Homo sapiens: one gene and its partners. The protein of the gene in region 2 purifies or fractionates together with the protein of the main gene of each other region. This does not show direct contact. Each region holds a gene or a part of one and is shown on either strand. Other genes may lie near its edges.

Evidence for each region. The genes of interacting proteins can lie anywhere in the genome.
Region 1: the proteins of SOS2 (region 2) and ZC3H14 purify together in Homo sapiens (affinity purification with mass spectrometry, with the first as the bait; one large-scale study listed by BioGRID). This does not show direct contact.
Region 3: the proteins of SOS2 (region 2) and SNX9 purify together in Homo sapiens (co-immunoprecipitation; one study listed by IntAct). This does not show direct contact.
Region 4: the proteins of SOS2 (region 2) and EVI5L purify together in Homo sapiens (affinity purification with mass spectrometry; one large-scale study listed by BioGRID and IntAct). This does not show direct contact.

The regions. Positions count from the first base shown.
Region 1 is NC_000014.9:88,573,037-88,576,536, forward strand, and holds part of ZC3H14 (zinc finger CCCH domain-containing protein 14), read left to right. Parts: intron 1-1,656; coding exon 1,657-1,817; intron 1,818-2,803; coding exon 2,804-2,904; intron 2,905-3,500. UniProt on the Homo sapiens protein: RNA-binding protein involved in the biogenesis of circular RNAs (circRNAs), which are produced by back-splicing circularization of pre-mRNAs.
Region 2 is NC_000014.9:50,162,079-50,165,578, forward strand, and holds part of SOS2 (son of sevenless homolog 2), read right to left. Parts: intron 1-3,500.
Region 3 is NC_000006.12:157,829,746-157,833,245, forward strand, and holds part of SNX9 (sorting nexin-9), read left to right. Parts: intron 1-3,500. UniProt on the Homo sapiens protein: Involved in endocytosis and intracellular vesicle trafficking, both during interphase and at the end of mitosis. Required for efficient progress through mitosis and cytokinesis. Required for normal formation of the cleavage furrow at the end of mitosis.
Region 4 is NC_000019.10:7,836,718-7,840,217, reverse strand, and holds part of EVI5L (EVI5-like protein), read right to left. Parts: intron 1-3,500. UniProt on the Homo sapiens protein: Functions as a GTPase-activating protein (GAP) with a broad specificity.

The DNA.
Region 1 (3,500 bases), about 38 Mb from region 2:
GGCTAAAAATCGGCAGTTCTTGATACCAAATAATATATGAAGTAACTAAACACATATTCCAAGGCTGGGCACAGTGGCTCACACCTGTAATCCCAGGACTTTGGGAGGCCGAGGCGGGTGGATCACGAGGTCAGGAGATTGAGACCATCCTGGCTAACACGGTGAAACCCCGTCTCTACTAAAAATACAAAAAATTAGCCAGGCATGGTGGCAGGCGCCTGTAGTCCCAGCTACTCGGGAGGCTGAGGCAGGAGAATGGCGTGAACCTGGGAGGCGGAGCTTGCACTGAGCCAAGATCGTGCCACTGCACTCCAGCCTGGGCAACAGAGCGAGACTCCGTCTCAACCAAAAAAGAAAAAACAAAAAACAAAAAAAACACATATTCCAAATTTATTTTATTTTATTTTACTTTTTGAGAAGGAGTTTCACTCTTGTTGCCCAGGCTGGAGTGTGATGGCGCGATCTCAACTCACTGCAACCTCCACCTCCTGGGTTCAAGCGATTCTCCTGCTTCAGCCTCCCGAGTAGCTGGTATTACCCGCCACCATGCCTGGCTAATTTTTTGTATTTTTAGCAAAGACAGGGTTTCACCGTGTTGGCCAGGCTGGTCTTGAAATCCTGGCCCTGTGATCCACCCACCTTGATCTTGGCTCACTGCAACCTGTGCTTCCCAGGTTCAAGTGATTCTTCTGATTCAGCCTCCTGAATAGCTGGGATTACAGGTGTGTACTACCACGACCAGCTAATTTTTGTATTTTTAGTAGAGATGGTGTTTCACCATGTTGGACCAGGCTGGTCTTGAACTCCTGACCTCAGGTGATCTGCCCTCCTTGGCCTCCCAAAGTGTTGGGATTACAGGCATGTACCATGGCGCCTGGCCCCAAGTTTATTTTTAAATTGTTTTATCTGCTGTTTCTCATGCTATACCAGATTTTCTTCCCCATGGCTTGCTCCTAGAGTTCTTTTGTATCACATCTGTATACCTTTTTGGGATTTCCAGCATTTGAGATATTAATCTTAAATTAATTTGGGGGGTTTCAATCAATTTTAGATTGTTCATGGTAATTGCTAGTGAGCAACCAATTAACTCTGTTTTATTAGTTTCCTCAATAGCACTATATGCAGCTGTTGATAAAATAAATGTAAAGTTCTAATTTTTGTTTTAGCTAAAGGTTGACTGTTAGGGATAATATTTATATTTATAGTATTTATTTATTTATTTATTTTGATACGGTGTCTCACTCTGTCGCCCAGGCTGGAGTGCAGTGGCATGATCTTGGCTCCCTACATCCTCCACCTCCCGGGTTCAAGTGAGTCTTCTGCCTCAGCCTCCCGAGTAGCTCGGACTACAGGCACATGCCGCCACGCTCAGCTAATTTTTGTATTTTTATAGAGACAGGGTTTCACCATATTGGCCAGGCTGGTCTCGAAATCCTGACCTTGTGATCCGCCCACTTCGGCCTTCCAAAGTGCTAGGATTACAGATGTGAGCCACCACACCCAGCCTCATATTTATATTTTTACATAAAACCAAGAAATACTCTGTGAATTTCTCATATTACTGTGTACTGTTTTTTTCTTAAAATGGAAACATTTTGTGGTAGAACTCTTGTTATTTTCTGAGATTAGGTAAGCATAAATTTTATCTGATTGCAGGATGAAAACTTTCGGAAGAGAAAGTTGCCTGTGGTAAGTTCAGTTGTTAAAGTAAAAAAATTCAATCATGATGGAGAAGAGGAGGAAGAAGATGATGATTACGGGTCTCGAACAGGAAGCATCTCCAGCAGTGTGTCTGTGCCTGCAAAGCCTGAAAGGAGGTACCTTGAACATGGCTGTAAATTAATCTTTAACTGCCTTGGTGGAGTCTTCCTGATTTATTGAAGAGAATAATCACGAAAATAATTTTTGTTTGTTTTTTGAGACGGAGTCTCGCTCTGTCAACCAGGCTGGAGTGCAGTGCCACGATCTCGGCTCACTGCAACCTCTGCCTCCCAGGTTCAAGTGATTCTCCTGATTGAGCCTCCTGAATAGCTGGGATTATAGGTGTGCACTACCATGACCAGCTAATTTTTGTATTTTTAGTAGAGATGGTGTTTCACCATGTTGGACCAGGCTGGTCTCGAACTCCTGACCTCAGGTGATCTGCCCTCCTCAGCTTCCCAAAGTGTTGGGATTACAGGCATGAGCCACCGCACCTGACATAAATATTTAATGTAATACCGTGTAAGACTTTTCCATTGGGTTTTGAGAAACACGTTAATGAGAGAAATTGCTTAACATTGGAGAGGATTGCAGAGAATATTGACTAATATGGTGGGGTGAGGAGGAACAACATCAATTAAGATTCAGATTTATTATTTAAAAAAACTAAAAGGGGCCTAGGCATGGTGGCTCATGCCTGTACCTAGCACTTTGGGAGGCTGAGGCAGGAGGATTGCTTGAGACCAGGAGTTCGAGACCAGCCTGGGCGATGTAATGAGTCTTTGTCTCTTAAAAAAAATTAAAATAAATTAGTTGGTCATTGTGGCAGGCACCTGTAGTCCTGGACTGGAGAGGTGGATGTGGAAGCATTGCTTGAGCCTAGAAGTTTAAGGCTGCAGTGACATCACACTCCATCCTGGGTGAGAGAGTAAGAGTCTGTCTAAAAAAAAAAATAAGGTTCCAGTGTAGTTGGCATTTTCTAAAAACTGCAGCTAGTCTGTTTAAAACCTAGAGAAGGTTGTGGTAAAGGCATAATAGATGGCTGGCCTGTGAGGAACTGAAATTTAAAGTTTAATAAAAATACCTTTCTTAACTCTTTTAGACCTTCTCTTCCACCTTCTAAACAAGCTAACAAGAATCTGATTTTGAAGGCTATATCTGAAGCTCAAGAATCCGTAACAAAAACAACTAACTACTCTACAGGTAATTTAAATGTATTATGTTTACACTTGGTAAGACATTTCTGTAATTCTTGAGTAAGGTGAAAATGATTGCTCCTTAAATTGTAAAATAAAGGTGCCTGTCAGATGTCAAGACCAAGATGAGGTTCCCATATAGAAAAATGGCTTTAAAAGGAAATTGACAAGTTTGAGAAACTTCGCCAACTGTTATTGGACTGTAGTTTTTCAAGCACCATATAATGCCTTTTATATCTTTCCAATGTGTGTAAAATATATAGTACGTAAATATTTTGAAGAGAATTTTGATGAAGTAGGACTTTCATATTAGTAGCATTAGATTCAACATTAGATATGAATTTACGATGTGTAAAGGGGAGTACAATTGGACAATGATAGGTATCTGAAGTTATAGAAATTTGTTAAACAGTAGTATATAAACAAGGTTGGTTTCTTCCCTTTTGGCGGAACTCATTAGTAGAATATAAGGCAGAGAATTGACTCATTTGTGATGTTCCTGCTCCAATTCTAGTGGAAGTACTGAATAATTTTATGAGAGAATATAAAAGTATTACGTTTTCAAAACAGGAGATGAATCAGCTGTAAGCTGGTCTTACGGAA
Region 2 (3,500 bases):
ACAGATATAAACTAACATGAGCATAGTAATCAGGAAAAAAAAAAGCAACTGTAAAAACCATTCGGACATTTTATTTTTATTTTTTATTTTTTTGAGACAGGGTCTTACTCACTCCGTCACCAAGGGTGGAATACAGTGGCAGGGCTAACTGCAGCCTCGATCTCCTGGGCATAAGGCTTCCCGAGTAGCTGGGACCACAGTTGCATGCCACCACATCCAGCTAATTTTTTTATTTTTATTTTTTGTAGAGATAGGGTCTCACTAGGCTGGTCCCAAACTCCTGGACTCAAGCTATCCTCCCATCTCTGCCTCCCAAAGTGTTGAAATTACAAGTGTGAGCCACTGTGCCAGGCCACATTTTCCAAACATATTTAAAAAGTTTAAAACACCTAAAGCATGAAGCTTACAACTTACTTTTATTCATTAGCAACTATGAATAGAGAAAATAAGTAACTATAAACTATTTCATATTCTCTAATGATTACTTTGTTTTAGCAATTTCAAGTTTACAAATCTTTGTTATATAACATAATCAAGGGTACTAACTTTTAACACTTCAATCTATCATAAACTTTTCCGTAAACAGCATCTCTCAAAGGATTCCACTGCTATTTTTTACAATATGAAATGTCAAGAAACCATGAAAATTAATTCTATCTCAATCTTTAGAAGATTTAGAAACTGACTTATTAATCTCTAAAACTCTGGTTCTATTTCATTTGCCCCAAAATGTTCTCTTGTATTTCACTCTCAGAAAGAAAGCAAATTTACTTATAATAAATAATTCAGATTGTATTGTATTGTGCTCCAATGTTTTGATTTTTTTTTTTTTTTTTGAGACAGGGTCTCACTCTGTCACCCAAACTGGAATACGGTGAGGTGATCATGGCTCACTGCAGCCTTGCCTCAACCTCCTGGACTCAAGTGATCCTTCCATCTCAGCCTCCCAAGTAGCTAGAACTACAGATGTGTGCCACCATGCTTGGCTAATTTTTTTTTTTAATTTTTCTGTAGAGATGGGGTCTCACTATGCTGCCCAGGCTGCCCTCAAACTGTTTTAATCTTTTGAAAGAAGAGTTCAAAGTGGAACATCATATAGATATTATATATATTATGTATTTATAAATATATATTTATGCAAGGATATGGGGAATTATGATCACTTCAGAAAATTTTTAAAAACTTAAATCTATTTTGTGATCTTTAACTTATTAGAGATTTTGTGATAAATTAAAATTTTCCTTATATTCCAAGAGCAATCTCAAAAGCATTCAGCAATGGTTCCCTTTCCTCAGCAAAGAACTAACTGGCTATTGTTTGACAACTTTGTCCATTACCTTTTATTTATGTCTTAGAAATTAGTCTCTATATGAAGCACAGAGCCATTTGATTTTATTTCAAGACACATGTAGAGGTCTTGTCATCAAGAGATTAGCAACATAAATAATGTAAATGACTATTATTAGAAGTAATACCTTAATCTCTAGACTAAGCAATAGAAAGGATGGAAGCAAAGTCAAAATATCATAGAAAGTTTGAAAAAAGATCTGTGCTTGGTTATTCTGACTTCTACAGGTGAAAGTTACTGGCAAAATCACTTATTTTGCTGCTTTAAAGATTTCTTACAGAAAGTCTTCTCAGCTCCACTCTAAAATATTTCTTTAATAAATATGAATGTTGATGACATCAAACACTTAATTAGAACTGTTTTATTCTTGTTTTTGTTTATCCAAATATCTAAATTATCACCAGTAGTGATATCCTACCAAAAAGGTATGATTTTCATTGTCTACTTGGTCTTAAGGCTGCTCAAACTCTTCCACGTGTCATTTTTAAATAACCATGTAATAATTATAAGCTGTAAAGGAGAACAAAATTGAGGATATTTAGAGTGGGATTTCCTGGTAATGGAAGTATATTAAACAACGGCTCTGTTTGGCATAATAATCTGATAATTTGCTAAATATTTCTTGAATTTTCAGCAGTGAGATTTGATAAACATCATATTAATGAATATCCAACTAATATTCTACAGATACTTAAAAGAATGTGTTCCAAACATCTTACACAGAAATTACTGGGCCAGGCAAGGTGGCTCACACTTGTAATCCCAACATACTGGGAGGCCAAGGCGGGCAGATCACTTGAGCCCAGGAGTTCAAGACCAGCCTGACCACACGGAGAAACCTTGTCTCTACAAAAAATACAAAAATTAGCCGGGCGTGGTGATGTGCACATGTAGTCCCAGCTATTTGGGAGGCTGAGGTGAGAGGATGACCTAAGCATGGGAGGTAGAGAATACAGTGAGCTGAGATTGTGCCATTACACTCCAGTCTGGGTGACAGAGTGAGACTCTGTCCCCCGCAAAAAAATGAAAATAAAAATAAAAAATACAAAAAAAAATTAGCTGGACGTGGTGGTGCATGCCTGTAATCCCAGCTACTCAGGAGGCTGAGGCATGAGAATCACTTGAACCTAGGAGGTGGAGATTGCAGTAAGCCAAGATAGCACCACTGCACTCCAGCCTGGGTGATAAGGCGAGATTCTGTCTCCAAAAAAAAAAAAGAAAGAAAAAGAAAAGAAAAATTACTGTACTGAACTATGTGCAAACAAGTAATGTACTTTCATGCCCCCATTCGCTTTCTACACAACAGTCTCTGACCTCCTTATCCACCCGGTGAATTTAGCCACTAGGATACAGTTGAAATGCTTCCTCTTGAAGATGCCTTCTGATTATGCCTTTTCCCTCTTAAATTTTTTCTTTTGAAATATCAAATTTATAGAAAAGTTGTAAAAGTAACACAAATAACTCCTGTAATACTCTGAATCACCAATTTTTAACATTTTGTCACATGCTTCATCATTCTGTGTGCCAGTGTGTGCAGATCGTTTTTTTAGTAGTTGTGATACTATCCACTCAGTTCCTTCCAGAGGAAGGGGGACTACGGCTGAATGGTTTTGCAGTAGTTTTTGGAATATAAGGAAAAGTCAAATGTATCACAAATTACTCTCAAATAGTATCATTCTCCTTTACTCCTTTAATATTTCTCATAGCTCATCTTACAACAAGGATTTTCTTTTACAGAATCACAGTATAGTGATCAACTTCAGGAAATTTAACACCGAGTAATCTACTGCATAATCTAATCTATAGTGTATATTCCAATTTTGCCAACTGTTTTAATAACATCCTTTAAGGTAATATTTTCCCCCAAAACAGGAACTGGTCAGTGAAGCACTAAATTGTCATGTTTCTATTGTCTCTTTTATTCTGGAGAGTTCCTAAGCATTTGTCTTTCATGACTCCCGCAAATAAATAAGGACACACACACCCGCGCACACACTGTTCTCTCTCTCAGTAGGACGAATACCCAAAACCATTATGTATTTTTTTTTACTCCACTGAACAAAGGAAAAATCAATAGGAATTTTTTTCTGCCTTCCCTAAGCAGAGCTAGTAACTCCTGCTTCATTGATCTCATAGTACTACCTCTATTAGG
Region 3 (3,500 bases), on a different chromosome or scaffold from region 2:
ATGTGATTTCACTAGCTTTTGGTAAATATTTCCCAGATATATAAAAGCCAATAGCTGAATTTTACCTTTTTATCCAGTCTGATCTTGGTGCCTGCCTGTACAGCATTGTGTTTACTGATATATTTGGATTTCTGTCTACCATCTTATAGATTGTAGGAGCCCACTCCCAACTTTGTGGAAGGTTTGTGTTATAAGTCTCTTTTTTCCAGTGGTTATCATAAGGATGTTAACATTAAAGTCTGAAATTACTTAATATCATTAGCCTTTTCCTGAATTACAAAAAGACATAAGGTTATTTAACTCCAGTCATCTCCCCCAATATGATCAATTATTGCCCAGTATTTTAGTTATATCTTTTTCACCACAAATTGAACATTATTTTTATACAGTTAAATGTTTTAGATCTAATCATATTGTACTGTGTCTTTGCTTACTGTTTCTTCTTACATTTCAGTCTTTTCTTGAGATAATTTCCCTTCCATCTAAAATGAATTGGAATTTCCATTGAGAAGGTATGTTGTTGGTAAATCTCTTATATGTCTCTTAGGTATGAAAATTACCCTGGTCTTGAAAGAGTTCTAGGTTGACAGCATTTTCTCCTAGTACAATGAAGGTATTCTTCCTTTGTTTTCTACTGGCTTTGACATTTGCTGCTGGGAAGCCAGTTAGCTAATTATTGTTCCTTTGTCCGTGGTGTGACTCCTCACTGGCTGTTTTTAACTTTCTCAGTTTTAGTATTTTGCAGTTTGACTGTAGTGTGTCCATGTGTGGATTTTAGTTGCACAGCTTGGGTTTCCTGGGTATCTTGGATCTGAGGACAGGTGCTACGTTAGTTCTAGAACAGTGCTGTTCAGTGTACTCTTTGTGATGATGTTCTACATCTGTGCCGTCCATATGGTAACTGCCTGCCTCTTGTGGCTAACAAGAACTTGAAATGTGGTTAGTGTGACTGAGGAACTGTGTTTAAATTTTAATTTCAGTAGCCACATGTGGCTAATGGCTACTTTATAGGTGAGTGCAGCTCTAGAAAATTCTCAGCGGTTATTCATGAAAATTGCCTTTTCTCCATTCTTTCTTTCTGGAACTCTAGTAACATGAAAAGGACCGATGGAAATCTAACTTCCCATCTGTCAACCTGTCATGTTTTCTTTGTGCTACATTCTGGATGATTTCATTTGTTCTTACCTTCTGTTCACTATTCTTTCCTCAGTCAGGCCAAATCTGCTCTTTTATTCATCCATTTAATTTTCAGTTTCGGTTATCTTCTATTTTTAGAAATTGTATTTGGTTCTATTTCAAATCTGCTTATCATTCATTATAGTTTCTGGTTCTTTGCTCATATTTTTAAGCTTCTCTTAAGCATGTCAAAACATTAATAGTTTTCCGTCCTAATCTCAGAAGTCTGATTCAGCCATCCGTTTCTGCACATTCTCACTCATGGTGCTTTGTTTTCTTGTGTGTTTTGTGATTTGATTTGATTTTTCCTTGAGTTGCTTGTTTTCCTTGGAACTTCCTCTGTGGGAATCCTATTACCTAGATTGAGGTTGTATCCTTCCAGGGAGGATTTGTGTGTGCTGATACCAGTCTCCTGGGGACATTACATCCTTGGAGTCACTATATCTTTAATTCCTGGCTTAATGTTTTCTCAGCCATACTGGGTAGAATAAATATGGACCTGGCATCTCAGGAGAAATTTTCCTCATCCCCACTACTCTGTATCAATGATGAGACATTTCCTTGCACACAGGTTTTCCTCTTTACCCTTATGCTGAGGTCCTTTTGGAGTCCCAGCTTGTAGCTTAATACAGGACACTTTGTGTGTTGCCTCCCCTGCCCCCACACAGTCCCCAGAGCACAGAGCCAGGCTCCCAGGTTTGTGGAGTCTCCCAGCGGGAAATCCTGCCTCAGCACATGTGTTCTCCCAGGGTTTCTGCTTTCACTTCCTTTGTGGCCTCTCCGGAGCCTTTCCTTTTGTGCTAACTCAGCAGTGTGTTTCAAAAGGTGTTTAGTTTGTATCTTTTGCTTTTAATATTTTATTCAGCACTTCAGTTGTTTCAGTCTGGCAGTGGCTCAGGTATTAGCTTGCTCTAGTTGCTGGAACAAAATCCAAGTCAGAGCATCTTTATAGCAGACTGTCAAGTGAAGGGAGTGGAATATGTGCATGAAAGTGTTAATCTGATCTTTGCAGAGGGAAAGGTCAAAAAGTTGTTAAGCATTTTGGTTGAAACCAAACCTTCAGTCAAGCTGTCAAACTGTGGGCATTTCAAAACTTTCCAATTGATATTTCTTTGTCATTTTTCTTTTGACTATTAAAAGCACATGATAGACTACTTACTAATTTCTAGGCATTGTAAATGCAGTGTTTAAGGATGCTATTCAGTCTGACTGAATTTTTCTAAGTTATTTGTAGTATCTGAAAATCGAGTCATATGGTATTATTACCCACAGGGACAGTACTCAGAAGTCACAGATTTGTGATTGTTCATTAAGTCAGACACTTAACTTTAGGGATAAATTAAAGAGGGGGAAATGCAGCTTCATTCTGTTGCCTATCACCCGTTGTCATCCACAACTCATTCATTTGAACTTCAGATGTGCCAGGTCCTCTGGGATGTCAGTATGAAAGGCCTGTCCTTGTACTCAAAGGGCACAATGTCTTGAAGGAGGGCAGGCTGTCTGCAGGGGCACAGTGCAGGCTCCTGGCACAGTTCCTCAAGCCCAGAGGCTTTCAAAGGACCCAAGTCTTGAAATGTCTGTGTATTAGTCTGTTCTCATGCTGCTATGAAGAAATACCCGAGGCTAGGTAATTTATAAAGAAAAGAGATTTAAATGACTCACAGTTCCAAAGGGCTGGAGAGGCCTCAGGAAGCTTACAAATCCATGGTGGAAGGGGAAGCAAACATGTCCTTCTTCACATGGCAGCAGGAAGAAGTGCCGAGCAAAAGGGGGAAAACCCTTATAAAACCATCAGATCTTGTGAGAATTCATGAGAACAGCATGGGGGTAACTGCCCCCATGATTCAATTACCCCCACCAGGTGCCTCCCACAACATGTGGGGATTATGGGAACTACAATTCAAGATGAGATCTGGGGAGACACAGCCAAACCATATCAGTCTGTTACTTAGTACTTTGAGTGAGTTTTAAACCTTACTCTATCACTTCAGTTGCTTCAAAAATACTTCCATAGTACAGCTCCACAGTCTGCAAGTCCAGACTTTGCCTTGTCAGATCCCAGATATTCAGTTCAGCAGACATTTCAGTAGCTATTTTGTGCCACTTGGATGCTGGGAATAAAGATTTGGATCCTCCCTAGGACAGTTGACATTCAGATATTAATGAATTGGTGTATTTAAAATGTGCGAGTTTAAATGTATTTCCTAATTTAAATTCACAGAAAAAGGCTTGAAAATTTAGACGTATGTATAAATAGTTGCCTATTGCATAGTGGCTGCACATAAGAAGTTTTTTTATGTTTTAGTTTGTTTTATAGTCTCAAG
Region 4 (3,500 bases), on a different chromosome or scaffold from region 2:
CGTGAGCCACTGCCCGTGGCCTAGGTTTGCATTTTAGAAAGACCCTTCTGGCCCCTCATGCGGAGATGCTCTTCAAATTCAATGCTTTCCTGACAGAAGCAGGCCCCTTGTCCTACTGCGGGTGCATCTATCTGGGTCCCCGGTGCCACCTGCCACCTCCACCCACCCACTCTGGCCAGGCCTGGGTGTTCCCCTCCTCCCTTCTCATGTTCTAGAGCTCAGCCAAGTCTACCACCCACATCCCACACCTCACTCCCAACTGGCCTCTGCTCTCCAGGCTGGAAGCTGCTGTCTTTTTGTTGTTGTTGTTGCTTTTAGAGACAAGGTCTTGCTCTGTTTCCCAGGCTGGAGTGCAGTGGTGCGAGATCCTGGCCTCAAGTGATCCTCCCACCTCAGCCTCCTGAGTATCTGGGACCACAGATATTCGCCACCATGCCTTGCCAATTTTTCTAATTTTGGAGACTTGGGGTCTCACTATGTTGCCCAGGCTGCTCTTGAACTCCTGGCTTCAAGTGATGCTCCTGCCTCAGCCTCCCAGAGTGCTGGGATCACAGGTGTGAGCCACCGTGCCCCACCAAAGCTGCTGTCTTGATGGCGCCTGCCACGTCCATTGAACTTTCTGTCCTTTCTGATGCTCTGTCCATGGGGCCACCAGAACCATACAGAACTGCAGCTCTTGCCACGTCATTGCCTGCCTAAGACCCTTTAGCAGCTCCCAATGGTGAGATGGAGCCCAGATGTCTTTGCAAGACGTGCATGCCCTTCCCAGCCTCGCCTCTTTCTGCATCCCTGCTTGGCACACTCAGTCCTCCAGGCACATGGGTCTCCTGATGTCTGCCAGTGTCTGTGCATACTCTGTTCCCTCTGACTGGAAGGGCATTCTCCAAGACCCGGTTTGGATTTTTTTTTTTTAGATGGATGGAGTCTTGCTCTGTCGCCCAGGCTGGAGTGCAGTGGCGCGATCTCGGCTCACTGCAAGCTCCGCCTCCTGGGTTCACGCCATTCTCCTGCCTCAGCCTCCTGAGTAGCTGGGACTACAGGCACCCACCGCCACGCCTGGCTAATTTTTTGTATTTTTTAGTAGAGATGGGGTTTCACTGTGTTACCCAGGATGGTCTTGATCTCCTGACCTTGTGATCTGCCCGCATTGGCCTCCCAAAGTTCTGAGATTACAGGCGTGAGCCACCGTGCCTGGCCAAGGATTTTTTTTTTTTTCTTTTTAGAGACAGGGTTTTGCTCTGTCTCCCAGGCTGGAGTGCACTGGTATGATCATAGCTCACTGTTCACTGCAGACTTGACCTCCTGGGTTCAAGTAATCTTCCCGCCTCGGCTCCTCAAAGTGCTGGGACTGTGCCTGGCCGGTTTGGCCATTCTTTCTGTGAAAACTTCTCTGTCAACCTCCCTTCTTCCAGCATCCTGGCTCGCTTTTCCCCCTCTCTCTCCCTGAAAACATCCACCCCTCTGCCTACACCCAAGCCCAATGCACATTCTATGGCAATTATTTCTAAACCTGCCTGCCTGCCTGCCCTAGGGTCATGCACGATTTGAGGACAAGAGCCTCTCTTCTTAATTCTCTATTCCAAGCCCCTAATGCACTATCTGGCATTCAGTACATGCTCGACAAACGTTTGTTGAATAAATGAAGATGAAACTTTCCATGTCGCTTAGGCAGGTGATCAAGGTCAACATCAACAGTGATAAGTTACGTGGCTAACACGTACCCTTGATAGGATGTGACAGAAAGGACCCTTCACCCCTGTGGTCTTCCTCCCCAAGACCCCAGTCTAACCATGAGAAACACCAGAGTGGCTGGGCATGGTGGCTGACACCTGTAATCCCAGCACTTTGGGAGGCCAAGGCCGGCGGATCACTTGAGGTCAGGAGTTTGAGACCAGCCTGGCCAACATGATGAAACCCTGTCTCTACTAAAGATACAAAAAAATTTGCTGGGCGTGGTGGCACATGCCTGTAATCTGAGCTACTCAGGAGGCTGAGGCAGGGGAATGGCATGAACCCAGGAGGCGGAAGTTGCAGTGAGCCGAGATTGCACGACTGCACTCCAGCCTGGGTGACAGAGCGAGACTCCGTCTCAAAAAACAAAACAAAACAAAACAAAAAAAAACCAACCAAAAAAAAAATAAACACACCAGACAGATCAGTATTAGAGGACATTCTACACAACACCTACTCCACCTTCCTCAAAACCGTCAAGGTTGGCCGGGCATGGGGGCTCACACCTGTAATCCCAGCACTTCGGGAGGCTGAGGCAGGCAGATCGCCTGAGGTCAGGGGTTCGAGACCAGCCTAACCAACATGGAGAAACCCTGTCTCTACTAAAAATACAAAATTAGCCGGGCGTGGTGGCACATGCCTGCAATCCCAGCTACTTGGGAGGCTGAGGCAGGAGAATCGCTTGAACCCAGGAGGCAGAGGTTGTGGTGAGCCGAGACTGCACCACAATTGCACTCCACCCTGGGCAACAAGAGCGAAACTCCATCTCAAAAAACAAAAAACAAAAACCAAACCAAACCAAACAAACAAAAACGTCAAGGTCACGAAAAGCAAGGAAAGTCTGAGAAACTGTCACAGCCCAGAGGAGGTTAGGGAGACATGACGACTAAATGTCATGTGGGATCCTGGGATGGAAGAAGGTTACTGGGAAAAAACAAAGGAAATCTGAATGAAAGGTGGACTTTAGTTAATAATAATATATCAATACTGGCCCATTAACTACAACAAATGTATCATATGAATGGAAGACATTAACTATAGAGGAGACTGGGTATGGGGCATATGGAAACTCTGTATCGTCTTCTCAATTGTTCCATAAATCTCAAAGTGTTCTACAAAATAGTCTTATTTTATTTTATTTATTTTTTATTTTTTGAGAAGGAGTTTCACTCCTGTTGCCCAGGCTGGAGTGCAGTGGTGTGATCTCGGCTCACTGCAACCTCCACCTCCCAGGTTCAAGTGATTCTCCTGCCTCAGCCTCCCAAGTAGCTGGGATTACAGGTGCGCACCACCACGCCCGGCTAATTTCTGTATTTTTAGTAGAGATGGGGTTTCACCATGTTGGCCAGGCTGGTTTTGAACTCCTGACCTCAGGTGATCCGCCCGCCTCAGCCTCCCAAAGTGCTGGGATTACAGGCGTGAGCCACCACAACTGGCCATTTTATTTTATTTTTGAGACAGGGGTCTCACTCTGCTGCCCAGGCTGGTCTTGAACTCCTGGCCACAGGGGATCCTCCTGCCTCAGCCCAAGTCTATTTTAAAAATAATAATAAAGGCTGGGTGCGGTGGCTCATGTCTGTAATCCCAGCACTGTGGGAGGCTGAGGGGGGGCAGATCACTTGAGGTCAGGAGTTCGAGACCAGCCTGGCCAACATGGTGAAACCCTGTCTCTATTAAAAATACACACACACATACAAAATTAGCTAGGTGTAGTGGCGCATGGCTATAATCCCAGCTACTCCTGAGGCTGAACCCAGGAGGCAGAGGTT